Regions from separate parts of the Homo sapiens genome. Here regions 1, 2, 3, 5, 6 and 7 are each reported to be linked to region 4. The links are microRNA targets in miRTarBase. Many come from high-throughput screens and were not tested one by one. Region 4 holds a microRNA gene; each other region holds the end of a gene's coding sequence. Distances are from middle to middle.

The links. The annotated mature microRNA hsa-miR-4695-3p reads UGAUCUCACCGCUGCCUCCUUC and lies in region 4 at 1,495-1,516, opposite strand. An mRNA with a match to its seed (bases 2 to 7 or 8) in the 3' UTR can be bound and repressed. Matches are read on the target gene's strand: a 7mer-m8 pairs with bases 2 to 8, a 7mer-A1 pairs with bases 2 to 7 and ends in A, and an 8mer does both.
Region 1: miRTarBase lists GSTM3 as a target of hsa-miR-4695-3p. Seed matches in the 3' UTR shown: 7mer-A1 at 1,988-1,994.
Region 2: the mRNA of CDKL1 is a reported target of hsa-miR-4695-3p. Seed matches in the 3' UTR shown: 8mer at 3,020-3,027.
Region 3: miRTarBase lists MOGAT3 as a target of hsa-miR-4695-3p. Seed matches in the 3' UTR shown: 8mer at 934-941 and 7mer-A1 at 1,262-1,268.
Region 5: miRTarBase lists MYO16 as a target of hsa-miR-4695-3p. Seed matches in the 3' UTR shown: 7mer-m8 at 3,505-3,511.
Region 6: miRTarBase lists SCN7A as a target of hsa-miR-4695-3p. Seed matches in the 3' UTR shown: 7mer-A1 at 3,211-3,217 and 8mer at 3,010-3,017.
Region 7: miRTarBase lists RTTN as a target of hsa-miR-4695-3p. Seed matches in the 3' UTR shown: 8mer at 2,578-2,585.

The regions. Positions count from the first base shown.
Region 1 is chr1:109,733,632-109,737,698 of GRCh38, reverse strand. GSTM3 (glutathione S-transferase mu 3) reads left to right here. Exons shown (of 9, transcript NM_000849.5): 7 at 1-43; 8 at 132-242; 9 at 530-3,762. The coding sequence ends at 628. Among named protein-coding and RNA genes, the nearest start is that of GSTM3, 5.4 kb to the left of the region's middle.
Region 2 is chr14:50,326,500-50,330,554 of GRCh38, reverse strand. It overlaps CDKL1 (cyclin dependent kinase like 1), which reads left to right. Exons shown (of 10, transcript NM_004196.7): 10 at 374-4,055. The coding sequence ends at 481. It overlaps DMAC2L (distal membrane arm assembly component 2 like), which reads right to left. Exons shown (of 6, transcript NM_001382507.1): 6 at 2,598-4,055. Among named protein-coding and RNA genes, the nearest start is that of DMAC2L, 16 kb to the right of the region's middle.
Region 3 is chr7:101,192,478-101,196,544 of GRCh38, reverse strand. It overlaps MOGAT3 (monoacylglycerol O-acyltransferase 3), which reads left to right. Exons shown (of 7, transcript NM_178176.4): 6 at 156-358; 7 at 445-1,538. The coding sequence ends at 599. Among named protein-coding and RNA genes, the nearest start is that of MOGAT3, 6.5 kb to the left of the region's middle. RefSeq lists an enhancer at 374-874.
Region 4 is chr1:18,881,710-18,885,776 of GRCh38, forward strand. It overlaps MIR4695 (microRNA 4695), which reads right to left and starts at 1,566; the gene lies at 1,493-1,566. It overlaps ALDH4A1 (aldehyde dehydrogenase 4 family member A1), which reads right to left. Exons shown (of 15, transcript NM_003748.4): 5 at 3,764-3,919; 6 at 1,570-1,719; 7 at 1,415-1,489; 8 at 1-178. RefSeq lists a silencer at 2,420-2,651.
Region 5 is chr13:109,206,435-109,210,489 of GRCh38, reverse strand. It overlaps MYO16 (myosin XVI), which reads right to left. Exons shown (of 35, transcript NM_001198950.3): 35 at 2,485-3,881. The coding sequence ends at 3,654. It overlaps LOC124903207 (a long non-coding RNA gene), which reads left to right and starts at 3,870. Exons shown (of 2, transcript XR_007063864.1): 1 at 3,870-4,055.
Region 6 is chr2:166,402,057-166,406,123 of GRCh38, forward strand. SCN7A (sodium voltage-gated channel alpha subunit 7) reads right to left here. Exons shown (of 26, transcript NM_002976.4): 26 at 1,517-4,067. The coding sequence ends at 3,524. Among named protein-coding and RNA genes, the nearest start is that of SCN9A, 28 kb to the left of the region's middle.
Region 7 is chr18:70,000,522-70,004,588 of GRCh38, forward strand. It overlaps RTTN (rotatin), which reads right to left. Exons shown (of 49, transcript NM_173630.4): 49 at 2,510-3,715. The coding sequence ends at 3,630. Among named protein-coding and RNA genes, the nearest start is that of CD226, 55 kb to the left of the region's middle.

The DNA.
Region 1 (4,067 bases), 91 Mb from region 4:
CTCCATGTTTCTGGGGAAATTCTCATGGTTTGCCGGGGAAAAGGTAGGAAGAAGGGAAAAGAAGAGGATACTTCTCTATCTCTGCAGGCTACTACTCCTCAGACCTAAGCATCTTATTGCTTTTCTTCTAGCTCACCTTTGTGGATTTTCTCACCTATGATATCTTGGATCAGAACCGTATATTTGACCCCAAGTGCCTGGATGAGTTCCCAAACCTGAAGGCTTTCATGTGCCGTTTTGAGGTGACGTTTCCTGCACCTTTCTCTTATAAAAACACTCACAGGCTCCCCTGGGACCTGCAGGATCCCATAGTGGAGGATTCTTCCCCGGCTTTTGCCTAATGGGATCAATGGTTGGACACCTCTAGACCTTTAAGTCTTGGGAAGAGCCTAACTTCTATACCTTGGAGGCACTGTCTACAAAAAAATGGAGGAGGTAGACGCAGGCAACACGTGAATGTTGCTGTTCTGGTATGCATCTGTTGGACTGGGTTGGGGTCGTTATAAGATTTGGTGTATTTTCCTTTCAGGCTTTGGAGAAAATCGCTGCCTACTTACAGTCTGATCAGTTCTGCAAGATGCCCATCAACAACAAGATGGCCCAGTGGGGCAACAAGCCTGTATGCTGAGCAGGAGGCAGACTTGCAGAGCTTGTTTTGTTTCATCCTGTCCGTAAGGGGTCAGCGCTCTTGCTTTGCTCTTTTCAATGAATAGCACTTATGTTACTGGTGTCCAGCTGAGTTTCTCTTGGGTATAAAGGCTAAAAGGGAAAAAGGATATGTGGAGAATCATCAAGATATGAATTGAATCGCTGCGATACTGGCATTTCCCTACTCCCCAACTGAGTTCAAGGGCTGTAGGTTCATGCCCAAGCCCTGAGAGTGGGTACTAGAAAAAACGAGATTGCACAGTTGGAGAGAGCAGGTGTGTTAAATGGGACTGGAGTCCCTGTGAAGACTGGGTGAGGATAACACAAGTAAAACTGTGGTACTGATGGACTTAACCGGAGTTCGGAAACCGTCCTGTGTACACATGGGAGTTTAGTGTGATAAAGGCAGTATTTCAGACTGGTGGGCTAGCCAATAGAGTTGGGACAATTGCTTACTCATTAAAAATAATAGAGCCCCACTTGACACTATTCACTAAAATTAATCTGGAATTTAAGGCCCAACATTAAACACAAAGCTGTTGAAATATTGATGAAAATGTAAGAATTTTTGTGACCACGGGGTAGGAGAAGTTTCTTTAAAGACGTAAAAAGAAAAAAACCATAGGCTGCTCTGCCTGTGGAGTAGCCATTCTTTATTCTTTTACTTTTTAAAATAATAACAATCACAAAGGAAAGATTTGCCAATTGAATAGGATCAAATTCTACAACTTTTCCTAAGGCACCCACAAATAAATGACAAGTGAGACAAAAAGCACTAGTATAAAGATTATATAAAGACCTATAAATCATTAAGACAACTGAGTTTTTAAAAATGGACAAAATCCATGAACAATTTATAAAATAGAAATATAGCCAAAAATGTCTAAAAGATGTTTATGATGTAAGGAATTATCAATTACAACAGTGAGAAACCATATTTCCTTCTATCCGATGAGTAAAAAGTTTCTAAAGTGTTGGCAAGGCTTAGGAAAGTGATATGCATTTCCTGCTGGTCAAGTTGTAAATTAGTATAGCTACTTTGGAGGACAATTGTAAAATTTAAATCATATCCTATGACCCAGCAATTCCATGCTATAAAAACTCATCCATGGCCGGGCTTGGTGGCTCACGCCTGTAATCCCAGCACTTTGGGAGGCTGAGGTGGGCAGATCACGAGGTCAAGAGATCGAGACCATCCTGGCCAACATGATGAAACCCCGTTTCTACTAAAAATACAAAAATTAGCTGGGCATGGTGGCATGTGCCTATAGTCCCAGCTACTCAGGAGGCTGAGGCAGGAGAATTGCTTGAACCTGGGAGGCAGAGGTTGCAGTGAGCCGAGATCACGCCACTGCACTCCAGCCTGGCTACAGGGCGAGACTCTGTCTCAAAAAAAAAAAAAAAAAAAAAAAAAAAACATTCAAAGAGACATATACTAAGATGTTCACTGTGGCATTGTCTGTAATGACAAATAAGTGGAAACCGTGTAAATACCTGTCAATACTATGGAGTACCATGTGGCAACGGAAGAATGAGACTGAACTGTGTGAACTAACATGCAAAGATCCCCAAAACAGGCCAGGTGTGGTTGCTCACAGCTGTAATAACAACACCTTCAGAGGCTGAGGTGAGAGGATCAGTTGAGGCCAGGAGTTTAAGACCAGCCTGGGCAACATAGTGAGACCCCTGTCTCCCAAAAATTTTTTTTAATTAGCTGTGCGCAATTGCTCATGCATAGTCCCAGCTACCCAGGAGGCTGAGGTGGGAGGATCACTTGAGCCCAGGAATTTGAAGCTGCAGTGAGCTGTGTTCTTGCCACTGCACTCCAATCTGGGTGACTGAGCAAGACCCTGTCTCTTAAAAAAATAAAAAAGATCTCCAAGCATAGAGAAGAGTCTGGAGGGAAACACCAAACTCATAACAGTCTTACTGCAGGCAAGTGGGATAAAGGCCCAGACTCCATGGTGGAAGTTAAAGGGCATTTCCAAGTTAAGGCTAAGACTTGCTTTTCTAACTAAGAGAATGTGCTCATGCATTGCTTGTGTAGTAGAAACTAGTTTTTAGAAAAGAAAGCAAACTTAAGAAACACTGACTCCTGTGGAGATGACTTGGCACCACTCTCCTTTCACAGAGCAGAGTCTGAATAGTCTTCAGAGATAGGCCTGTGGGCCAGATTGCCATCCCCTATGGACCAGAAGCCAAGGATCTCTCTAGTGATGGTCAGAGGGCCCAAATGGCAGGGATACCCAGTGATGTCAGGAGGAATAGTACAGACAGAAGGTGCTAAGCAGACAATTCAACTGCCATGTTTTGCCACCCCCTGTGAGCAGGGATTAGGTGTTCAGGCCAGTATCTTGGGCATGGGGGAGCCTTTGGCCAGAAGAGGTATAAAGCTCAGAAGTTTTTCAGTCTGATAACTATTGATATAATTTCCATAGTGTGAGGGAGCGGTATGCTCTACCCTTGTGTATTTAAGGCAGGACAGAGAAATTGAGGATGCCCCTGGGGCTAGATCGATGATATGACCAGAAATCAAAAAGGGAATGCATTATTTATTGCTGTGTAACACTGTTAAGAGAGGAGGTAGTTAAGGGATGGATAGGCACATAGAGAGGGAAGGTCTCAGGAGAAGGGATAGAAAGGAACTATGTTCACAAGAACAACGGCAAGACAGTGCCTATACTGCCTCTACAGTTAATAGGAAAAACGGAAGAAGTTACCCTTAAGCTAGGATGTTGCTCAGAAGTGACCATCCCAACTTTGGTGCGGGCACAATAAATCAGCCTAAATGTCCCTAATTTAACCCAGCTCATTATAATGTCATTAAACATGACATTAGCATTGTGGTTTTAGCACCCCCATGGGTTTTGCTTAGGCACTCATGGGTAATAACCAAGATGGAGTCCCTTTGGCAAAACTTAGGCATGCACAGCTGTAGTACCCCAAGAAGAAAATGTTACTTCTCTCATCTGGGCAAAACCCACAGAAGACTTCCCAGCTTCTGCCACATAAAAGACACAGAACACAGACGCCTTACTGGCAACCTGCTTTCAAGACCCCTGTCTTTGCTGAGAGCTTTCCTTTTTCCCAATAAATTCTACTCTGCCCTACTCACTCTCCATGTCCATGTGCCTAATTTTTCGTGGTCATGGGACAATAGCCTGAACCTTGCCATACTCCAGGGGCAAAAGAAGACTTCTACACTATTCCCACAAATTTAGCAGCTAAAACAATACATGTTTATGGTCTCAAAGTTTTGTGGATTAGGAGTCTGGGCACAGCTGAACTGGGTCCTCTGCTCAGGGTTTCATCTGAAAACTGCCATCAGTGTGTCATCCAGAGCTCTGATCTCATCCCCAGGCTCAGTGGGAGAAGGATCTGCCTCCAAGTCTGTGTAATTGTTGATAGCGTCAGTTCTT
Region 2 (4,055 bases), not on the chromosome of region 4:
CCTAGGTGCTCTGTTTATCAGTTTTCTCCGCTATAAGACAAGGCATTGGCTTAAATGATCCCTAAGATCTCAGCAAGCTCTCAACTCCTGTAAATCTATGTTTTCTTCCCAATAATGTTAACATGTAGATTTTCCCCTTTTCATATTCTCTAAATCTTCTTTAATGTGAATGTTTTTCCTTTTTAATATAAACATTTAAAAGGAAAAGCCAAGACGAAATTGAAACATTTAATCCTCTCTCAAGTCCTGGATTGTGTGCAAAAAAAGTACTTCTATACTAAAAAGCTTAATTACCTCTTTTGTGATATATTCTAAATAATGAAAAAAATGCATGGCACAGTTTTGAACCTAATTCTGTGTTTTGCATTTTTAGTTGCAGTACCTACCCCAGCTAACTGGCAGCAGCATCCTTCCAGCTTTGGATAATAAGAAGTACTACTGTGATACCAAGAAACTTAACTACCGTTTTCCAAACATTTAAAGGAGCTAGGAGACATGATTTTAAAAAAGGAATCAATAGATGCTTTGAAGAAAATAAAACTTATACAGTTGATTGAAAACAATTACAATGTTGAAAACACACCAGGAGAAAACATAAGCAAGAAACTGGGAGGCCAACTGGCAAGATATGAAGGGAAATTCCAGATCCAGTCTTCCATGCTTGATGATGGTGTCCAGAAAAGAAAAAACCTGTTTGGAGTTGCACTTGTATTTCAGTTTATGTAAGTAGCCGAACTTATGGACAGAATATGAACTGTCCCATACCTCTGGCAAAACTAGATGATATCAAAAAGATTTATGCTTCAGTTGTACCACATGCCACACAAGAAAAATGAACCACAAAATGCCCATATATATTTCCTCGGATCTCTGTTGCCTGAGTCCTATCTCCTGCCTCTCAGATTGTTTCAGCATCATATTTAAGATAGTTCTATTTCTTGAAATCAAAATGTTTAAAATCCCATTTCCTGCTTGCTCTATTTCTTGATTTTTATATTTTAAAACATTTTGAGGGTAACACTTAGGTTCAAAATATTTAAAAGCATATGAATTATCACAAAAGCTTGGTAATTTATAATTTAATTATATGTTTCCACATTTCATCCTTACTTTATCAGTAAAGGATACACCTTAGTCACTTTTGCAGGCAACGTGGATTTACTGTAATCTGTCTACATTTATTCACCCAATTCCCCTTGTAAACAATGGCATGAAGCTCGGCAGCTGATTAAGGCAGTCAAAGGGTAGAGCAAGACCTACAGGCTTTGCAGGAACTGAACCTATCAGCCTGAAAATAATTAGTATTTCATTCTCTCTGGCACAGCCTTTGACCTGGTACATCTATAGGCAAACCTGTAATTCAGTGATCTGGGTTTCAGAAGAAATTACTTGTGAGCTTTTACTTGAGTCATGAAAGACATTATGTTGTAAACTGATGTTTTCCCTGAAACATCTTTTTGCACTATGTTTGTATGTGTATGTATGTGTATGTATATATATATATATATATATATATATGCTATTCTAACAACTAATATATTACACTAAGTAGTCCAAAGTATTGAGGACTCATAGCTTTGCACAGTGAGACTTAAAATGATGACACACACACACATATATATATATGTGTTTTTTATATATATATATAAAACCTGCCACCTCAGCCTCCCAAGTAGCTGGGACTGCAGGCATGTGCCACTATACTGGCTAATTTTTTTGTATTTTTTGGTAGAGGCAGGGTTTTGCCATGTTCCCCAGGCTGGTCTTGAACTCCTGGGCTCACGTGATCTGAGCGCCTTGGCCTTCCAAAGTGCTGGCATTACAGGCATGAGCCACTGCGCCTGGCCAAAATGACATAATTAGCTTTGATTTGGTCTACTGCTCTTAATCAAAAAGCTTTTTCATCCTTGTCCCCTGGACACAAGGGCAATATGAAGCCTGACGTCTGTTTCTTACAGCTCAACACCATTTCTGGTTGATGTGCTGCCACTATTCCTAGCACTTCTCAGCCATGGTCTTCAAAGTTGTATTTCACTCTATTTTCAAAACATTTCTTCTGTACTCTCATTTTCTTCCTGTTAATTTTCTTCATGATGACATCTGACCCCATTTACTTAAGTAATCCACTGAGGTCTGGTGTCTACTCAATAATTTTGACTACCCTAGGCAGTTTAATGATATCCTAAGGCTTCCTAATGTATGTCTTTTCTTGCCTAGACCTGATATGGGTTAAATGCTAGTCCCTGAATTATTCAATTCCTGTTAGACGGCCTTGATTCAAATGACAAGGAAGAACATCCAGCTTCCGTGAATAGTTAAAAAAAAATTTTTTTTTCCTTAACCCAAGAAAATACACTTGACGGAGGCAGATTACTATAACAGCCTAATAATTCAGCCAATAGTTTTACCAAAAACTATTCAGAATAGAAAAGTAGCTCTAGACTAAATCGTGGTGAATCAGTTGTCTCACCATACAGTAATGAAACAAACCTGAGAAAAAAGGCTTATTTTTTTCTAATGAGTTCCGTTAAATTTATGCTTATGTTCAATTTAACCATATTTATAATGCTTTTATTCGGTATGAAATCTCCACTGTATCACATGAGACTCTTCCACATCCTTTTATTTACTATTTTCTGATTTTTAAAATGACAGTGGCAATTACCATTTATACTGTGTTATTTGTATAAGCTGTTAAACACAACATTGTTAAACACAACGAAAATTCATTTTTCTACCTGAAAGCTGTATCATAGAAAATTATTTTCAAGTTTATATTCAACAGCTTAATAATGTTCAAACCAGGCTGGGCGCGGTGGCTCCCAGCACTTTGGGAGGCCGAGGCGGGTGGATCCTGAGGTTAGGAGTTCAAGACCAGTCTGGCCAAGATGGTGAAACCCTGTCTCTACTAAAAGTACAAAAATTAGCTGGGCGTGGTGGTGGGCGCCTGTAATCCCAGCTACCTGGGACGCTGCGACAGAGAACTGCTTGAACCCGGGAGGCAGAGGTTGCAGTGAACTGAGATCACACCACTGCACTCCAACCTGGGCAACAGAGTGAGAGTCTGTCTCAAAAAAAAAAAAAAAAAAAAAAAAGTTCAAATCAAACACACAGAAATCTATAAACAAACTGGCATATAAGAGTAATAGAATCAGGGCCATTTCTCACAGGTAACAATGAAGACCTGTTTTATCTATTTTTCACTTTTTTTTTTTTTTTTGAGACAGGGTCTTAATCTGTTGCCCAGGCTGGAGTGCAGTGGTGCCAACATGGCTCACTGCAGCCTCGACTTCCCGGGCTCAACTGATCCTCCTACCTCAGACTCCTGAGTAGTTGGGACTACAGGCATGTGCCACTACACCCAGCTATTTTTTATTTTTTAATTTTTTGGTAGAGACAGGGTTTTGCCATGTTGCCCAGGCTCGTCCTGAACTCCTGGGCTCAAATGATCTGCCTGCCTTGGCCTTCAAAAGTGCTGGGATTACAGGCCAGCCCTTTTTTTTAAGAGACAGGGTCTCCCCCTTTCACCCAGGCTACCAGGCTGGTGTGCAGTGGCCGTGATCATAGCTTACTGCAGCCTCAAACTCCTGAGCTCAAGCAATCCTACCACCTCAACCTCCCAAGTATCTGAGATTACAGGTATGCACCACCATGCCTGCCTAATTTTTAAAATTTTTTTAGAGATGGGGTCTCACTGTGTTGCCCAAATTGGTCTCAAACTCCTGGTCTCAAGTGATCCTCCCACCTCAGCCTCCCAAAGCACTGGGATTACAGGCACGAGCCACGGCACCCAGCCTAAAGCAATGTTAGGTTTCAAGAAAAACCTAAGCATAGCCCACTAGTTTTTACTGTTTCCTTTATTATATTGCAATCTGCAAAACTATTTGTATTCAGCCAAGTATCTATGTCCAGTTTTAATAAAATAGTAGCCTAAGCTTACAAAATAGACAAATTAAGCAGCAACTGTTGATTCTGAGTAAGTCTGTATGCTATCAAGAACACAAGAATGCAGGATCATGGGAAATGCACGCAAATCCTGTTGAAGCAATGCATGC
Region 3 (4,067 bases), not on the chromosome of region 4:
CTTCTAGATCTTTCTTTGTAGCCATAGTCATGTGCTTTGAATGACCCTGGGAGGTAGCATCTGGACGTAGTGGGAAGGACTTGTAGCCCCTGGGGGTGCCCATCTCGGAGCAGTCCAGCAGCCTGAGCCCCCTCTTCTCTCTTGCTCCTTCCCAGGGCGTCCCTGGTGCCCGTGTACTCCTTTGGGGAGAATGACATCTTTAGACTTAAGGCTTTTGCCACAGGCTCCTGGCAGCATTGGTGCCAGCTCACCTTCAAGAAGCTCATGGGCTTCTCTCCTTGCATCTTCTGGGGTCGCGGTCTCTTCTCAGCCACCTCCTGGGGCCTGCTGCCCTTTGCTGTGCCCATCACCACTGTGGGTGAGTGCCCACCTCCGGGGGGACGGCCACCAGCAGCTGCGTGGGCATCAGGGATCCCTCGCCCACCTGTCTCCCTCTCCCTGCAGTGGGCCGCCCCATCCCCGTCCCCCAGCGCCTCCACCCCACCGAGGAGGAAGTCAATCACTATCACGCCCTCTACATGACGGCCCTGGAGCAGCTCTTCGAGGAGCACAAGGAAAGCTGTGGGGTCCCCGCTTCCACCTGCCTCACCTTCATCTAGGCCTGGCCGCGGCCTTTCGCTGAGCCCCTGAGCCCAAGGCACTGAGACCTCCACCCACTGTGGACTCCATGCCTCCAATAAAAGGTAGTTCTGGGCCCAGCGCAGTGCCTCATGCCTGTAATCCCAGCACTTTGGGAGGCCAAGGTGGGAGGATCGTTTGAGCCCAGGAGTTGAAGACCAGCCTGGGCAACACAGTGAGACTTCATTTCTACAAAAATTAAAAAATAATGTTGTTAATTAGCCGGGCATGGTGGCATGTGCCTGTAATCCCAGCTATTTGGGAGGCTGAGGCAGGAGACTTGCTTAAACCCAGGAGGCGGAGGTTGCAGTGAGCTGAGATCACACCACAGTACTCCAGCCTGGGCAACACAGCGAGACTCAATCTCAAAAAAAAAAAAAAAAAAAAAAAAAAGACTGTTAAAGCTGTAGTAGGCTGGGCGTGGTGGCTCATGCCCATAATCCCAACACTTTGGGAAGCCGAGGCAGGTGGATCAACTGAGGTCAGGAGTTCAAGACCAGCCTGGCCAAAATGGCAAAACCCCCTCTCTACTAAAACTACAAAAATTAGCCGGGCATGGTGGCTCATGCCTATAATCCCAGCTACTCCGGAGGCTGAGGCAGGAGAATCGCTTGAACCCAGGAGGCAGAGGTTGCAGTGAGCCGAGATCACACCACTGCACTCCAGTCTGGGCAACAGAGCGAGATTCCATCTCAAAAAAAAAAAAATGTTGTTAAAGCTATAATCGTTCTGGAAGTGAACATGGCCAGGCATGACCTGCCCCCATCCTGATGTGCTACAAAGCTGCTGCCTTAGATTGGGTATCAGGACCCTGAACTGTCCTCCCAGTGAGAGTTCAGTCTGTGGCATGACCTTGGACAAGCCTCTTCCTTTTGCCTGTTTACTTCTTTGTCTGTAAATAAAGGCATCTGCTTAGCAAAGAGCTGTTGGGCATTGGGATGGAGTTAGGAGGGAGGATGCGTGGAGAGGCAGGCTTTGAAGAGTGAGCAGGATTTAGATGGAGGTGAAGTTAGGGTAGATGGCGGAATTCCAAGAGCTAAAGGTAAGAGCAGTCAAGGGCACTTAACAGGACGGGGAAATGGTACCATCCCCAGTGAAGGAAAAATAGAGTTAAGAACACAGCTGAGGCTGGGCGCGGTGGCTCACGCCTGTAATCCCAGCACTTTGGGAGGCTGAGGCGGGCGGATCACGAGGTCAGGAGATCGAGACCATCCTGGCTAACAAGGTGAAACCCCGTCTCTACTAAAAATACAAAAACTTAACCAGGCATGGTGGCGGGCGCCTGTAGTCCCAGCTACTGAGAGGTTGAGGCAGGAGAATGGCGTGAACCCGTGAGGCGGAGCTTGCAGTGAACCGAGATTGTGCCACTGCACTCCAACATGGGAGACAGAGCCAGACTCCGTCTCAAAAAAAAAAAAAAAAAAAAAAGCTTATGTCCTATGGCCGGCTGCTGTGGCTCACACCTATAATCCCAGCACTTTGGGAGGCTGAGGCAGGTGGATCACGAGGTCAAGAGATCAAGACCATCATGGCCAACATGGTGAAACCCCGTCTCTACTAAAAATACAAAAATTAGCTGGGCGTGGTGGTGCTCTCCTGTAGACCCAGCTACTCAGGAGGCTGAGGCAGGAGAATTGCTTGAACACGGGAGGCGGAGGTTGTGTTGAGCCAAGATCGCACCATTGCACTCCAGCCTGGGCAACAAGAGTGAAACTCCGGCTAAAAAGAAAAAAAAATGAAAAAAATGAAAAAAAAAATTCTAGAAATTAGCCAGGTGTGGTGGCTTATGATTGTCATCCCAGCTACTTGGGAGGTAGAGGTGGGAGACTCTCTTAAGCCTAGGAGGTCAAGGGTGCAGTGAGCCGAGATCGTGCCACGGCACTCCAGCCTGGGTAACGAAGCGAGACCCGTCTCAAACAGACAAACAAAAAGAGCCCTGGGGTGGTCACAGCATCCTCTGACTTTGGTCAATCCTATTTGCTGGCTGGCTTTGTGTATCCAGGACTTCATCAAGAATAACTCATTGAAATGTAATTGGAATGCCCTATATTTGCTTCTACCGTCCTATAAAATTTATTTGTGGGAAGAATTTTCCCTTTATTGCATGAAAATATGGGCAGTCCCATGACTTCCCTGGGTCATTCTCAGATAATAAGTTCTACATTCATTTTAAGTTGGAGCATAGAAATGTTTCGTTCAGGCCAGGCATGGTGGCTCATGCCTGTAAGCCCAGCACTTTAGGAGGCCGAGGCAGGAGGATCACCTAAGACCAGGAGTTCAAGACCAGCCTGGCCAACATAGTGAACCCCGTCTCTACCAAAAATACAAAAATTAGCTGGGCGTAGTGGCAGGTGTCTGTAATCCCAACTACTCCAGAGATTGAGGCAGGAGAATCGCTTGAACCCGGAGGCGGAGGTTGCAGTGAGCCGAGATTGCACCGCTGCACTCCAGCCTGGGCGACAGAGTAAGACTGTGTCAAAAAATAAAAACAAATAAAAATAAAAATAAATCAGCTCTGGGTTTGAGCAACCTCGGCCTGGATACCCTTGGAGTTCAGGCAGGCCTCGACGTGGCCACTTGTCCTTCCCCCTTTCCTGCCGTGGGAGCATCCAACCAGTCACAATCCGGCCAATAGATTTCTCCAGTGGGCACATTTTCCAGACACTGGGGATGGGCGGGGTATGGTAGTATGCATCTGTCATCCCAGAGTTTGAGAAGCCAAGGTGGGAGGATCGCTTGAGGCCAGGAGTTACAGGCTGAGCCAAGATTGCACCACAGCACCAGCCTGGGCAACAGAGCAAAACCCGTCTTTTATTTTATTTTATTTTATTTATTTATTTATGTTTTTTGAGATGGAGTCTCGCTCTGTCGCCCAGGCTGGAGTGCAGTGGCGCGATCTCCGCTGACTGCAAGCTCCGCCTCCCGGGTTCACGCCATTCTCCTGGCTCAGCCTCCCGAGTAGCTGGGACTACAGGCGTCTGCCACCACTCCTGGCTAATTTTTTGTATTTTTTTTTTAGTAGAGATGGGGTTTCACCGTGTTTGCCAGGATGGTCTCGATCTCCTGACCTCGTGATCCGCTCGCCTCGGCCTCCCAAAGTGCTGGGGTTACAGGCGTGAGCCACCAAGCCCGGCCCAAAATCCGTCTTTTGAAAAAGAGGAAGAAGGAACAGCATTCGCAGCTTTATGAGCTCAGCCTGCCGCTTTTCTTTCGGCGCCATTCTCTCCTGCCATCCTCCATGTGGCCACCAGAGGGCGGTCTCTACACAGAAGGCAAATCTGTCCCTCTCTTGCTTGAAGTCCTCGGGGGCTAGCCAGCCTCTGCCTACAGGCTGGGTCCAAGGTGCAGCCCCACCCAGGGCAGACGACCCAGAACTGCTTGTTCTTGCAAACCAGGCTGTGTTTCAGCCCTGGGCTTTACTCAGGCTGTCCCTTCCCACCTGAGGGACC
Region 4 (4,067 bases):
CTGTGAAGTTGATGCCACAGAGGTGCTCTGAGCTGGTGACAGTGTCCCCAAATAGGGGCCCATCAGCTGGCACAAACTGGATGATGTTGGGGGGCAGGCCAGCCTCCCGAAGGATGCGGTAGACAGCATAGCTGGCCAGCATGGCAGTGTCACTGGGCTTCCATAGGACCACGTTGCCCTGCCCGGGAGGTGTTTCAGTGATGCATGAGGATGGCGCCACCAGCCCCCAACCCCCACCCCACCCTACCCTACAGCATGGTTGTCCCTCACCTGGAACCACCAGACTCTGTGCCAACCAGGACATCCCCTACCCGACCCCACTCCTCCAAGGCGTCTGGCCCTATCTCCAAAAGTCCCTGCCAAGGAGGCCACGGCACAGCCCAATCTGCCCCACGCTCTGGCCAAGGCTCCCTTTCCCCAGAAGCCTGCACCAACCGGTCCTGCCATCACCTAGGCAGGTCTGTTCTTACTGCTAGAGTCACTGAGTGCTCACCGGGCGCGGCGGGGCAAGTACACACGGGCTCTCTCAGCACATGTCCTGGGTCAGGCATGTGCAGCAGCCAGGCACGTGGGCGCCTGGCCATGCACCGTGTTTGTCTGTGCACAGATGCATGAGGACGTCCCCATCCATGTCCCTAGTACACACTCCGGCATCAGCATCCAGTGCCCCTGTCTGGGGCTCGGGGTTCCCGACAACTATGTGGACCTCTCCCACCCAGGCTGTCTGGGAGCTGGGCTGCACCTCCCCCACAGGCCTGGGACTTCATCCAGTAATAGCCAACCTCACTCCGATAATGGCAGAGGAGTGACTTGAATACCATCAACCCCGAGAGAGACTACATCCAAATCTTTCTCTGCTCCATCATTTATTTACTAGTCACTCAGTCTTGCCAAGTAAGTCACGGCTGTGTGTCTCAGTTTTGTCATCTGGCAAAGAGGCAGAGTCACAACTCCCTCTCGAAGCTGCTGAGAGGATGAAATGAGATCATCTCCATGCCGTGCTTGACAGCAGCAGGCACGTGGTGAGCACTGAAGGTCAGCGGTAATGATCATCAACAGAGCCACCAACACTCAGCCAGCTCCGGGCCAGCCCTGCCTGCTGCTGGATGTGTCTCATTTGAGCCTCACAACCCAGTCATGGAGGCTTTCCTATTATTTCCACTTTGCAGATGAGGAAACTGTGCCTCAGAGAAGTTCAGGGATTGCCAGGGTCTCCCAGGCAGAGAGGCACGACGCTGGGATTCAAACTGGGTCTCTGGTCCCAAAGCCTACCCACAGCCCCAAGCTGCCTCCACCTTCTGTGCCTCTCCCCATGACTAGGCTGAGACCCAAGGGGCTCAGGGTGGCCTCTGTCTGTCTGTTGGGACCAGGAGGACAACCAGCTGCCGCTGTCCCACCTGTGCCCACATCTCACCATCAGGGCCGGTGCCCCCGCCAGGTTGCCGCCGATTGCAGTGAAGTTAAAGGGCGAGATGGCCGCCACGAAGCCCTGGGGAAGGAGGCAGCGGTGAGATCAGGCCCATGGCATTGGGCTGCCCCGCCTGCTCGCCCACTGCCTCCTGCAGGTACCTCCAGACCCCGGTACACCGTGCTGTTGGTGCTCGGGGGCACGCTGATGGGCTGCTGCCCCTCCAGCTCCACCGCATACTTGGCATTGAACCGGAAGAAGTCGATGAGTTCCGCTGCAGCGTCAATCTCCGCTTGGATCACGGTCTTACCCTGCAAGGCAGAGGGCCGGGGGTCAGGAGCAGCCAACAGCCTCCTGTCCATCCTCTTCTCACATCTGACGCTGTGCCCAAAGCGAGCACTGAGCCGGGCCCCAGGAGGGACCAGGAAACATTTGGAGGGCTCACCAGGTCCCATCCCAGGGGCTGAGGGGGAAAGGATTCTCAAGCCCCTGAGCTAGCACCTCCTGTAGCCGGCCCTCTGGGCTGGACGGGGATCAGAAGAATTTTAGTGATCCTCTGTAGCAGGCCAGGTACTTGCCATGCACTGTCTTCATTTCATAGCAACTCTGAATGGTGGTGCATGGCAAAGGATCTATGGTCAAGCCTCAGACTAAATTCAGGATCAGAGCCTTCCAGACAGAAGGGCAGATTAGCATGAGCTGGAGATTGGTCACTGGAAAACCAGGAGAGAGACTCGGTGTGTGGGAGGTGGATGGCTCCTTCCCCAGGAATGATGTTCGGCCTTGCTGGTTAGTTTGGGCCAAAAACCAAGAGGCGAGTGACTGTGATTCCCTTAAACCGTCAATTCTTAATAACAGCAAATGTGAGCTGCAGGGAAAAGAACTGTGGACAGCCAAGAACGGGGCTTTTCCAGATTGACGTGGCCTCCTCTTGGCACCCAAGGTCACTGGCAGGTGCACGACCTATTAGAGACACACAGCCCATGAAGCTGAGCTAAGATGTGTACCTTGCTTCCTAGAAGTTCCTGAGTCTTAGGCCAAATACAGAGAAAGCCTAAACTGATCCTAGACTGTCTTCCCAGCAACGTGCGGCTCACCAGGAACACGCAGAGCTGACGCCCACCCCAGAGGGCTGCTGAGCCAATCTAAGAAGGCATTTAGCAGGCTGAGGGGCTGTCATACCAGCTCTGTGCAGCAGAGGGGGCGCTCACCATGGGGACCGAGGAGCAGGCAGTGGCAAATGCCTGATCCAGAAAGCAGCCTGGGTTCTGGCTCCTGCAATTTACCCTTCAGGAACCCAGGTTAGTTGGCAGCGTAGGGCTCAGGTCCTGGAGGTGGTGAAATAACCCTTTCTCCCTCGACTCCTGTCCCCCGCACACTCTGCCTGCTAGAGCCACTCCTCACTCAACTTGCATTTAGCAGGGTGAGGAGCTGTCATGCCAGCTCTGTGCAGAGAAAACCATTGATCAGGGGCTTGCTATGCCTCCTGAAAGGTATCATGCAAAGCCCAGAAAAAGACCGAGAATGTCAAGACATGTTTACTATGTCCAAAAAGCTTGTAAAGGGGCAGTACCTAGGAACTCAATACACTCCAGTGCAATCTGAGCTGTAACTGATGCAGGAACAACATGCTCTGGGGAAACAGAGGCAGGAATAGTCCTTTCGGCTGGAGAAGGCTCAGGAAGTCTCACGGAGGGGGTGACATCTGGGCTGGACCAGGAGGTAAGAGTTCACTGAGCACGGAAGAGACAGCAGGCATTCCAGGCAGGAGGACACGTGGGCAGAGGCAGAGAGGATGCCTGCCATGGCCGGGGAGTCCTGCTAAGTGCCAAATGGCTACACTATGGGCAGGACAGCTTGGCAGGGAAATGCAGAGCAGTGGGCGAGCTGGACAGAGGTGGGCAGAAGGGCCCTGGGTATGGGGCTCAGGTCTTGGGACTTGCCTCTCAGTGGTGGAGAGGTCTGGGTGGGTCATAAGCCAGGAGTAACATCCTGGAGGTGTTGGAAAGACCACTCTGAGGGCGGCGAGGGGCTGACCAAGCTAGGAGGCAGGGAGACAGTGCAGGCCACCACCAGTCCAGGCAAAGCATGACAAAGGCCTAGGAGCGAGGACAGAGGGATGGAGGAGAGGGGACATTTCCGAGGCAGGACACATGGGCTCTGCACAATCTGTCTCGCCTAATAATCTGTGATCATCCATCCCAGCTCCTAGGCCTTGTCCCTTGAGGACATCTCTGGGTCCCCAAAAGGGCTTAGGACCCAGAAGCGCTTCAGCTGATGTCTGCTGCCATGGGTAGGGCACACCTGACTCCCACCCCACCCCGCCCCACCCACCCGGGCCCACCAGCACCTCACCTGTCCCACCATGGTCTTGGCGAGGATCTCAGCCCTGCGCGGCCCACTCAGCATGTCTGCCGCCTTCAGGAAGATCTGGGCCCGGTCTGCAATAGGCTTCAGGTCCCACTCTTTCCGGGCAGCCAGGGCAGCCTCAATGGCTTTGTTGAGCAGGCTCTAAAGGGAGAGGGAGAGGTTGGGGACTGCCACCTGCAGCGGGAAAGGCCCTGGGGAGTGAGCGAGGGAGGAGAGACCTGGGAGGCCACTCTCTTCCATCCGGGGACAATGCCTGTCTCCCTGGGCCCTCAGCCCCCTGCCACCATAG
Region 5 (4,055 bases), not on the chromosome of region 4:
TTTAACTCATTGTAAACATTTGGATAGTGGTTTTTAGAGAGCTCTCATAAATAATTTTTTTAAAAAAGCAATAGAAGTGGGCAGTGTTTGAACATAGGGTAATAATTCATACCAATTATATTGCTGAACATAAGTTTGAAGCCTCAATAATACATCCTAATTCATACCTTATGGTCTGATGGCAATTAAAATACCACCATTAAATATTTTGCAAACACACATAAAAGCTGAAATCTTGCTTATGTAGAATAATATTCAGTACTTTATTACCCAGAATATTACCTCTTTATTTTCTTGACAAAGTATAATCATTAGAGAGCCATTCTGAGAGTAACTTTAATCCACACGAAGGCTTGGACTTCGTATTATTGTGACTGTTAATACTGTTACTACTGTCATGGCTATTGATGCTTTTGAGCCTCTGCTGATTTTCATATCATGTAATTAGAACAGGCACAATCAGATGGTCCTAATGTAGTGATTAACACACACCTGCAATCTCTTTCCACAGCGGAGAATCCAAACAACTAAACACAAAAGGGCTTACTTACTGATTAAGGAGATTGTGTTTAAAGGGTCTGTCCACATTGATTTAGAAGATTGTGTTTAAACAATCTATCTACAAGCGGGTTGGCTTCTAGTGTCTGAAGGTCAACAAACCTTAAATGAGGCAGAGGGACTACTGAGAGGTTAAATATTTCATGTTCATGATGCTCATAGTACCCTAATAGGTGACTGTAATGTTTACCTAGTGATGACACAGGCCCCAGTGCTTCAACTTGGGTTAATAGGGAGTTGTGTGGTTTGGACACACATGTGGCTTGTGACTTCCTTACTTCACGTAAGGTCTCCCTACAATGGTCATGCATCATCATTTCAGGTGTCTTTTCATAAAGTAAGTTGGCAATTTCTGTATATCAAATTAAAATGGCATGGACATTGGAATCATAAAGATGAGAGTTTATATCTGATGGGCTGCTTAAAGCTATAAGCTTCAATTTCAGTATCAATACAAAAATGATAAAAATTACCTTGTAGGCATATGTCAGTGCTGTGGACTGAACTATGTCCTCCCAGAATTCCTATGCTGAAACGCTGATCCCCAGTATGATGAAATTTGGAGGCAGGGTCTTTGGGATATGATTAGGTCATGAGGGCAGAGGCCTCGTGATGGAATTCATGCCCTTATAAGAAGAGACACCGGAGAGGGTGCTTCCTCCCCTTCTTCTCTGAACATGCGAGGGTACGATGAGAAGATGGCCATCTGCAATCCAGGAAGCAGGCCCTCACCAGACACGGGATCTGTGGAAATTTTCATCTTGGACTTCCTAGGCTTCAGAACTGTGGGAATACATGCTTGTTGTTGAAGCCACCCTGCTGATGGCCATTTGTTACAGCAGCCCTAACCAAAATAGCCAGTTTAGGAATCACATGGGCTGAGCACCTCGCACAGTCAGCACAATGCTCAGTGAACATTTGAAGCAAGTTCTTGCAATGTGCAATGCTTAAACAGTTTATTTTTCACCCTGGCCTAAATATATTGTGGGGAGGAGAATGCAATTCAAAGTTTTAATTCAACTAAGATCATTAAGTGCCTATTATGTCCATAGCATGGCCCAAGAAGCCATGTATCAAGGGAAAGTTGGCTTCTTCCATTGCTTCTTCGCGGGGGTGGAAGTCAGAAGGGAAAAACATGAGAGAAATAGGCAGGGAATGGGACTCGGCTGTCGTCAGGCTGGAGGTCAGGCAGAACACTTCCTTGTGGTTGCTGGGTGGCTGCAGTAACATTGCAGTAACTACATATTGACCATGTGCTTTTATTTGCTGTGTTCTGATGCTTTGGCATCTGGGGCCCTGCTGACCTTGGAGGAATTGCCATTTCCAGGGTTAGCCACGTCCAAAAGATAATGATGACTCACCCCAGAACATGATTTTCAAAGACAAGTCAACCAATCTAGAGCCCACATCCCTAGTAAGTCTCCCCTGTGGGCTCTCATAGGGCTGTCATTCCAGGCCACTCTCCACCCACCCTAATCACCTCAAGGCTAGGTCCCAGACAGGTAGGGATGGCTCCGCTAACCCAGAACCCACCGATATTTCTCAAAGCAGTCAGTTCTATGCCTGCTGATCCTGCCTTGTCCTTTCCTAGTGTTGTGCAAACTAAAATAAAAGGCTCCCCCTATGCCCTCTGCTTCCTGGCTGACCTTGGTGTGGCCCTCTGATGGCACTATGTGTCCTCTTCTCTGAGCTTTCTGAGGATGACAAGCCGTCTTTTCAATGGGACTCCCTTCCAGACCTGTTGGTCTCACCATACTGGAATCATCATAAAGCCTGTATTGTAAAACATCATTGGTGTCTAAAGTTTGCACAATGCTATGGCCCCCACATTAAGGGAGTCTGGGTGAGATCACTTCATTGTCCCTACTTCTCTGACCAGAAAACACAAGAGTTCATGGGAGACAATAATAACAACAACAAAAACAATAGAAGAACACAGTTGTACCTCTTTATTGGCACAGTAACTTTTCAAAGGCTGGTATGAATAAAAAGTTCCAAGTAGCAAGACAAGGTGGTCTGGAGCCACTGCTCAGAACTTTCCGACAGCCGACGAAAGCACATCAATGAACAAGGCCTTGCATTATGGGAGGGTTGAGGATATACAGTGAGGGAATCATGCAGTGTAAGTCCCGGGGGACGAGCGCTGTGCGATGCAGCCCCTACTGCTCAAACCAGTACATGGCAGCGTGCTCATTTGTACTGTGTAGGCCTTTGAATGAATATGATCATTTTACACCACCGGCTATGGATTTGAAGCCATACGTGTTTAACCGTGTGCCATGTGATTTCCTGTGATCTATGCTGAAGTCGGGAGGTGAAATTTAACTAAAGGGTACACAATCCACTTATCCAGAAATACAGGGCATAGGAAAGAACAGCCTCCTCATCCATGAGTAACACCTAAAACATGGGGCTCAATTCATAGTTTTGCAAGGGGTGACACTGGCGAAGCTAAAACAACAATGTAGTTTCAAGATTTAGGTGCGTTAGGTGAAAAAAAAGGACTGTGGAGGAAAAAAATAATCTAGAAATGATTTTTTAAAATCTGTATTTTGAAGAAAGGAAGCACCACCAATTGCATAAATTTATAAAATTACAGTAATAAACATGTAAATAATTATCAGGTTTATAATACCAATAAAACACAAGTAGCTACAAAGAAATAAAATATATGTCCCGTATACTGTATTATAATAAAACCATTGGAAGTACAATAAACAGACTGTTGAACCGTAGAAAAACAACTGTACAGAGTGTGCATGGATTGCTCCTTTCCTCCGCTACTCTCTCGCTCTGGCCACGTCCACACTTTTCCCAGCCTCTCTCTTGCTACCTAGGGGTAGCACAGAGCCGTAAATGAGGAGCTTGAAAATCAGAGTGTATCACCACGAGATGGATAAGAAAGAACCCACACACACACACACAAACACACACACACACACACGGGATCTCATATATTTAGTGTCTGTGTCCTGTGCTTTTTTTGTCTAAATGCGTGGAGAGAAGCCCCAGCGCATGTCAGAAGGCAGCCTTCTGTTGTTGCAGCCCGGAATCAGTAGGCAGTTCTATTTTGTAAGTCTGCAGTTCAGGCCACATCAAATGGTGGTGTCCCAGAGCTCAGACGGCAGCCTGTTGCAGGAGGCCCCTTCCGGCTTCTTCAGAAGGCTGGGCTTCTTGCAAGGTGGTGGGGGAGGCACCCTGGGCTCAGCGTGGTGCAGGATCTGCTGCCAGTCTTGTCCTTCCTCACAGAGCTTTCTCCTCCAGTCCAAGAGTTCCTGCAGGGCCACACTTTCATTCTCTGAGAGCCTCAGCTGATGGATTACCTGTGGGAGGAAGAGGGGCAGAAAAAACAGGTAGCACCAAATATTGTGAATGAGTATGAAGTGTGATAGCAACACCTGGATACAAAGGGGCAGGACTGGTGCTGAAAGAGGCAGCCTCTTTCCTCAATCTCCATGCACTGCTGCCTCTGGAAACAGCACTGGGCTAGAGAGGCT
Region 6 (4,067 bases), not on the chromosome of region 4:
TCAAGGAGTATAGGGTTACGCCACCTGGATAGAGAGTAGAACCTAGGGCTGGAGTTGAGATAGAATTATTTGAGTCAGTGTGTGATTATAAGTAGTTGAAGACAGAGGTTTCCATACAGATGAGGAGATGATTAAGTGTCTAAGCCTGAAAGTTTTAGTTTACCGAACATAAAGATGAAAATTTCCACTTGTGAAGACTCAAATCATTCATTGGAGTTCTTTATTAACCATCATAGCTAAGAATGCAGACCCAGAATTTATGGAAAGGAACAGACAACAGAAGAGAAAGTTCAAAAACCAAAGGGAAAAATAAAACATGTCTGAGAAGGGATTTGAGGTGTCCAGAGTAATTCTGCTCAGATTTTCTAGCTAATCTCTGCAATAGGGATTGCATCGTCTCCTTGGTTCATATCTCTTTATCCTCCAGGCTGAAGAACTATAAGCTGGATGCCTAGGTCTCATATCTGTGGTGGACTCTTCTCCTTAAAAGTGCCTCTGTGTTTAATAAAATTGCCTTCTTTAATTGACAAAGTCCTCCTTTCTCTGCAGGAGCCCACTTTACTCACTTCACCTCTGATATCCAACACAGAACCCATCATTCCTGCCTATATGTGTATTACAATGTACACTCACAGTATAAAAATTATCACATATTATAACCAGCTGCATATTACGTTTCCCCCCAGTAGTCAGTAAGCCCTTCAGTCTCAGATATATCTTTATCTGAATAGGATCTGAGTTTACCTTTAGTATTCAGCATTCACAAAACGTTGAATTTTTCAACTTCTATAATTTTATCCCTTATGACTTCCCTTTTTCCAGGGAATGTCTCTACTTTTAAAATTTACTGCACCAAATGGGGAAAGTGGGACAGCGGGAGATGGAGAGCGAGCGAGCGAGAGAGCGAGTGTGAGAGAAAACACATTAAGGCTCTGTAACTGGACCTGGTTTAGAGTCCTGGCCTTTTTACTTATAGGGTCTCTGCCATATAAAAACTTCATAACCTTTCTAAACCTAACTTTTTTCACTCATGAACTGAGAGTGATCACTTCTTCATGCACGATAAATACATACGATAAGGCTGGGCATAGAAGTGTGCTCAATAAATGGTAGCTGTTACCATTATCTTTAAAACAATTTCAAGTGTATTATATTTACTAATGAAGCACAATAAAATTTTTGAAGATGCAGAAATTGATAAATAGTAGTGTACCAATAAATTTAATTTCAGTATTATCTTCCAGAAAGCAAATTCTAATAATACGAAAATATATCTAGTAAAATTATCATTATAATTTTGATAAGAAGAGTGATCATTTTACATCTTGTTAATGTGTAGGGGCCACTGGTAAGCTTACTAAAATGTATTTTACAAAATTATGTGATCTAAAGAAAGCACAACTGTTTCCAGTTTTAAGCCTGAATTAACAAACTTTAATGTAAAGCTTATTTTTAAAAAGTATACTACACAAAGTTGCCAATGTGATTTATCAAATTAAAAACAAACATAGCTTAATGTGGTTTACAGGTTATATTTATTATTTTCTATAGTATCTAAAAAGTAACATATATTGTTAAGACTTTGTTAAAAATAACTCTTTACACAGCTTTCGGAAGGTAACTGGCAAACAAGGTTTACAAGTAAAAGATAAACTTTTCAAACTAAAATCAGTTTGTTGTCTTTACGCAATTTACAGAAGCAAGTTATGATTCAATTTAAGTATCTGAAGCAGTTTCCACAATAAAGCATTCCCAAGAAATAGAAAACGGAGCTTAGATAAAGCACCAGCTGTCACATTGTCACCAAGTTAACACTGGTTCCTCACTGGTCTCCATAACATGATGGAGAGCAGGAGAAGAAAGGGAAGGAACACTTAGAGAGGAAAAAAAAAAAACCCTGAAATCTGAAATTACATTTACTTAGGGCATCCCCTAAAGGCATCTTGGTTAGGTTATTCAATTTCTGAGGGGCAGAAAAAGATTATAGTAGTTAAGGCTTGAGATCATGCATTCAGAATAAAATACAATCACTGATACATAAACTATATTGAATGTTATACAACATATTTAAAGGATGATATTTAAATCAATAATATATAAATTTTCTTTCTGAATCTTTTAGGACTTAGCAGGCACATTGAAATCAATCTTCATAAAGTTGGAATAACTCTCAGAATCTCAAACTACATAGAAGTAAATGACTATATTTGTATGAATAAGTCTAAGGACAACTATTTATGCCTATCTTTAAAAAACAATTTCAATAGTGAAAACTAATGTTTAGGATTTTACAGTTCTTTGAATATAAAACATTTTATAGAGTATGGATGTATATGATGAGATTAAAAAACTTGAAAACGTAAATATATAAGGGAAAACTAACTTGTACATACTGTTATAAAACAACAACAAATTTAAACTTTTATCTCCTAATTCATAGTTCTCATAGTTTGAGTGACCATTGTCTCTCTCTAAGTTATAAAGAATTATAACATACAGTAAAAAGTACTTTAAAGTTGCCACAACTTTCCAATTAAGGGCCAAGACACTATGAGAATCCCTATACATAATGGTAGTTCTCAACTCTTCTAATTCATGTTTAAACATACATTTGTCAGATCTTATATATTCAATGTTACATTAGAAATAACTGGTAAAAATACATCAATTTCATAAGGTAAAGCTTGAGTCTATTAACATGTTATTTATTACATCATTTTAGTAAATGTATACTTTTTAAAAAAATAGGTGTAAATGAGAAGAAAATGAAAAAAAAAAAAAAAAAAAAGGCTATACCTCTCCTTTATGCTTCTTGTTTTACGAATCTGTCCTGCTTAAGAGCCAGAGCTTAGGTGAAACTATCCAGAGATGAGAAACCAGGAGCTTGAGCACAATGAAATCCTATTCATTCCCAGTTCCAAATGAAAACAAGAACATACAAAAATAAACACAGAGCTTCAACCAATCTTTTTCAAATGCAGTTTTAATCAGCCCAAGAATCTCTGAGGTTGATCTCAAAGGCACTTTCTAAAGAACTGCTCTCTCCCTTCTTCCAATTGGCTTTTGTCTAGGCAAGTTTATGATTTAATGGCCATTAGCATTTCACCATCCCACATCAGGAAAGTATTTGCTTATTTGTAAGTCTTAATAGTGGTGACTTAAAGCCCATTAAATTATACATAAAATATAAAAGAAAGCCCCTGCTGCTGCTGATCTCTATCACCACTTCCCTTCATTCCCTAGAAGGCACACATCATATAAGCCATGTAGAGAAAACAAATATGAGATTGTCAAATGGCCACTTTAACCCACTTTAAACTCACTGCAGCAATATTAAGGATTCTCTTGATTTGTTAGATATAATGCTAAAAAGTGAATTTGGCATGAAGTCTTGTGAATACAAGCTTAATTACCATCGGTTGTAAAGAACTGATTATTATCTCTACTTTTCTTTTATTCCTGGCTTAGGCTTTCAACATTTTTCAGATATGTGAAGAAATATGAAAAGAGGTGGTAAGTGGTATTAGATCTGGCTTTGAATAGGTGACTTTTCCTTAGCTTTGTCAAAATAGGCACCTTCTTTAGTAGCATGAACATCTCTGTCACCATCTATCATATGAATATCTGATGTATTTTTGTCATTTCGCCTCAAGCGGTAATTTTTATAAGCACGTTGAATGATGGTTGCTGAAACTGCCTCTTGTTTTCGTTTCAAAGTAGTCGTAATTGGCTCACATGTGATCTTAAAAGGGTTGGCTAACAAAAACCCTGATTCTATTTCTGAAACAACTTTCTCCATCCTCACATCTTGACCCATAACTCTCTTTGTAAAAGCAAGTAAGATATCGAGGCAATGAATTCTGTCCCCAACAGCCATGGGGAGGTCCAAAGCAATGAGCTGGCCCTTGTTTGGTTTTGCCATGAAAAGAGGAGGATCAAGAGCAGCTGCAAAATCTGAAAGCTTGCTAGAGTCTATGTACTGGGTCCTATCAGGATCAAACCTTTTCCATACCTGAAAGAATTTCCTAAAATCATCTTCACTCAAGGTCTTGTTTTTCTTCTTAGAA
Region 7 (4,067 bases), not on the chromosome of region 4:
TTGCTTAAACAGATGTTTTTGAGAATTTTGTAAGAATAAAAAATCACTGATAACATCTAAGGGATAACTATGTACCAGGCTAAGCACTCAGTCCTCTCACCAACTGCACAAGGTAGGTGTCCTCAACCCCAGTTAGCTTGAGCCTGTCCCAGGTTTCCAACAATTGCAGTGGTGAGGCCAGGGTTAATTCCTGGTCCACAGGACTCAAGAGCCCTCTACTCTTAACCGCTCTATTATGCTCTCTCATTCACTGAGATAACTGCAAGCAGATCTTAATGCAGAAGCGGGGATGCCAGTCATTACTCTTACCCATCACTCTGGCAAATCCGAGGAACATCACGGGTCAAGAAGCAGACCTGGGGCTCTGGCAACCTCAAGAAATGGGGAATACACAAGGTGCAGCCCCAAAGACTGATGATGCAAAATGACACGGATGAAGAGTCCATTTAACACTACAAAGGAAAATTGGTGATCTGGAGTTAAATAGGCAAAATTCTGTTTTGTTTTTTTTTTTTTTTTGCTCCATTATTTATAGAACACCAAAAAAAGAGGTACATTCAGCTATTCATTTCTGTAAGTGTTTTTAGGAAGAGTGGCAAAAGGGTCTAGCCAGGTCTGCTAACACCACTTTCCTACTAGCTTCCTGTTTTCAAAACTAATGGCTGCCTCCTCCCTCAAACTGCTCAAGTCTTAAGCCCAGAAGCCTCAGTATCAATGTCTGCACTTCATGTGTGACGTGGCACTACCTTTTTGTGCTTCCATAGCGCACATACACTAACTCAGCCCACCAAAAATGCTAGGATATGGAGAAATTGGACACCATGAAGTATGAACTAGTCCCCTGCACCTATTTCCTGGATCCTTGCTTAAACTTGGGCAGGTGTGAAAGAAAAAATACTTGGTTCACATTCAAGAGACCCAGATTCAAGTCCTGATTTCATCAGGCAGCAGTTAAGTGATATGAAATAATTTTCGTGTTCTAGGCAGTTTTCTGTAATCATGGGGATTAATCAGTGGTTCTCAAACTGTGGTGAGCAGAACCTGGAGAGCTTGCTAAAAATTCTCCTAGACACAAGTCTGCCTCATTGAGCCCAGGAATCTGCATTTCAGTGCACACACCTGAGGATTCTGATGCTGGTCCGCAAGGGAGAGGCAGGGCAGCTGCTACAGCAGTGGGCCAGTCACCTCAAGGCTCCTGCTGAGACGTCTTCCCCACTGGCTGACGGTGCATAATCCCAGGAGACCCAGTTGCAAGGACTGTCCCCCAGGATCTGGACCACAGCGTGCACCCGAGCTTCACATTCCTGGACACCAAGAGAGGCAAACGCAAGTTCCCCTAAAGCCATGGCCCCTCTCCTTTCTCCAAGGTCTGCAGTCCTCCTGGGCTTTGGCAGGTAACATTTCTGGGTGGTTCTGACTACTAGGCTACAAATCTCCCTCTGGTACTACTGTGAACTGCTAGGGAAAATGATCAGTTACAACAATTCTTCCTGGTTCCAAGAAGATGAGGTAGTGCCTACTCTGATATGTGAATCAGTCAATCAATGAACCATAATATAATTTCCCTGAAGAGAACAAATTTTTGTTGAAAAATGGTGTTTATCTATAAGATTCAAACACAAAAAGAGATATTTCAGTGGGGGTGGTAGAGGGGCAGAATAAATGGTTTATAAAGAAAAGTGGTTTATAAAGAAAAGCAAACTTCTTCGCAGTTATCCTGGGTTCCAACCTCCACTTCACTGATAACCAGCCACAGTCAATGAGCACATTACTTAACCGCTCTGCGCCTCCGCTTATTCACCTGGAACACAAAGACATTAGTAGTATTTTAGAAAAAGATAGATTAAATGATAAAAGTTCCGAGAATAATAGCTGGGACATAGAAGGAGGAGTTATAAAGGAGTTATGAAGGGAGTTAGAAATTCATTTCATTTATTTATCAGTGAGGGCTGATTAGAGAATTCCAGAAAAATGGCAAAAAATATAAGATATCGGGAGAAAAGGGAAAAATAATTCCCAAGATTCCTGCTCTCAGAATTGACGAGTTTTCCGCTACACATTAACTTGGGCAGCTCAGAAACTTCTGAGCTTCCTAGATTTATTTTTCAGATCTCGAATCAATTAATTCTCAGACATTACAAACTTAACTGTTACTATTTCTGTATTTAACATAAATTTTGTCATACTTCCAGCTTAAATAACATCATTGCTTATTTTATTGCTGTTAGCAATTTAACAGCACTTAAAATGATATTTTTCTTTCAGTTTTTCTGAAAACATTATCCTAAATGAATATATATGTATACATGTATATGACATATATGTATATACAAACATATATATATTAATACTTCACCTTTTATTTCTCTTACACACAATTTTCTCACTTTCAAAAGTGTTGGGAAAGTTGCTGAAAGTGATTAGTACTTGATTTTGGTTTAAGTGCGGAATTCAAAACTACAGGTTAAGTAAGATTATGTAATAGAGTATAGAGCTTGTTCCTCCTGCATTTTTTTTTTTTTTTTTTTTTTTTGAGACAGAGTCTTGCTTTGTCACCCACGCTGGAATGCAGTGGCATGATCTCAGCTCACTGCAACCTCCCTGCCTCCCAGGTTGAAGAGATTCTCGTGCCTCAGCCACTGGAGTAGCTGAGATTATAGACGCTCAAGACCAGGAATGGCTAATTTTTGTATTTTTAGGAGAGATGGGATTTCACCAAGTTGCCCAAGCTGGTCTCAAACTCCTGGCCTCAAGTGATCCACCTACCTCGGTCTCCCAAAGAGCTGAAAGTATAAGCATGAGCCACCAAGCCCGGCCATCTTCTGCATTTTTCAGTCTTACTCTATTCTTCATGATGTTTTGGGCTGAGCTAAATTTGAACCCAGGCTTATACAGCCCCAACTCTATTTCTTTCTTCTTTATTACACAGCCTTGCAGAAGACAACGGTGAAGATTATACATGTAATGATTTAAGAGTCATCTAGGAAGAAGATAACATCACTAAAACTTGCCTAAGAAAGCTACTTACAAATCATGTACATTTACTTCCACACAGCCCTTTACAAATAATGCACACTTACTTCTACATAGCCCTTTTCCAGTGTGGATGCTCTGGATAACAGAAAGTTTTGAAAATAAGGATTTGCACTGACAGAGCCAAATTTTACATCAGTTAAAATTTAAAAAAAGAGAGAAACAACCAGGACACAGTGTCTTATTTCAACTCCTAAAATTAATATTCATGAGACTGATAAAAGTCTGTAAGCAGCAATTATTAGTCAATTTTTAGTTTCTAAAAATATTGTTTTATTAAATAACTGTTAAATAGGATTTTTACAAAATAAATGGCATAGAAAAGGGTAAAAATGTTTATGTTCCCAGAACTTTCTATGCCTTTTCAACAGAAAGGAAAAGGCACAGAAAGTTGTCAGCTGCTATTACTTCTGGAGAGCTGCCACAACTGGACGGTGTTGGAGTATCACCAGTTCTCTCTCTCATGGGAAAGAAGGGGATCAACACTTTGTAGAGAGGTAGCACGTCTTCAGGTAACAGCTGCTACACACAGCTGGCTTCAACTTTAGCTCCCCTGTTGATGACTGTCAGCTTCAAGGTGTAGCATCCCATGGCACTCAGGAAGAATTAAGGAGCTGCACGAGGTTTTCAAGACATTTCAAATAATAGGCATTTAGAGGGTTTGCTTCTGAGTTTGGGAAAGCTGAGATAGAAAAATAAGAGTACAGAAATACTAGTTTATGAAACTTGGTACTATACTTAGGAGGCACACACATAAACAAATACATATGAACAGGATTTATATATAATTTAAAGCTCTAAGTTCTTGATGTAATAGCATTCCAGAATATTTTGCATTTTTTAAAAAATAAACAAGTTACAAAATCAATATTTTTTTAAATTAACAGCTTACCCAGAGTATTTTTTAAAAAGTACCCCCCATAATGGATACCATTAACTATAATTCCAAATGAATGCCATTAATCTTTTTTTATGTACCATCCTTCCTAAAGCATAATCTTTAACTTCACTAGCTCCAGAAATTCATGGTCGCA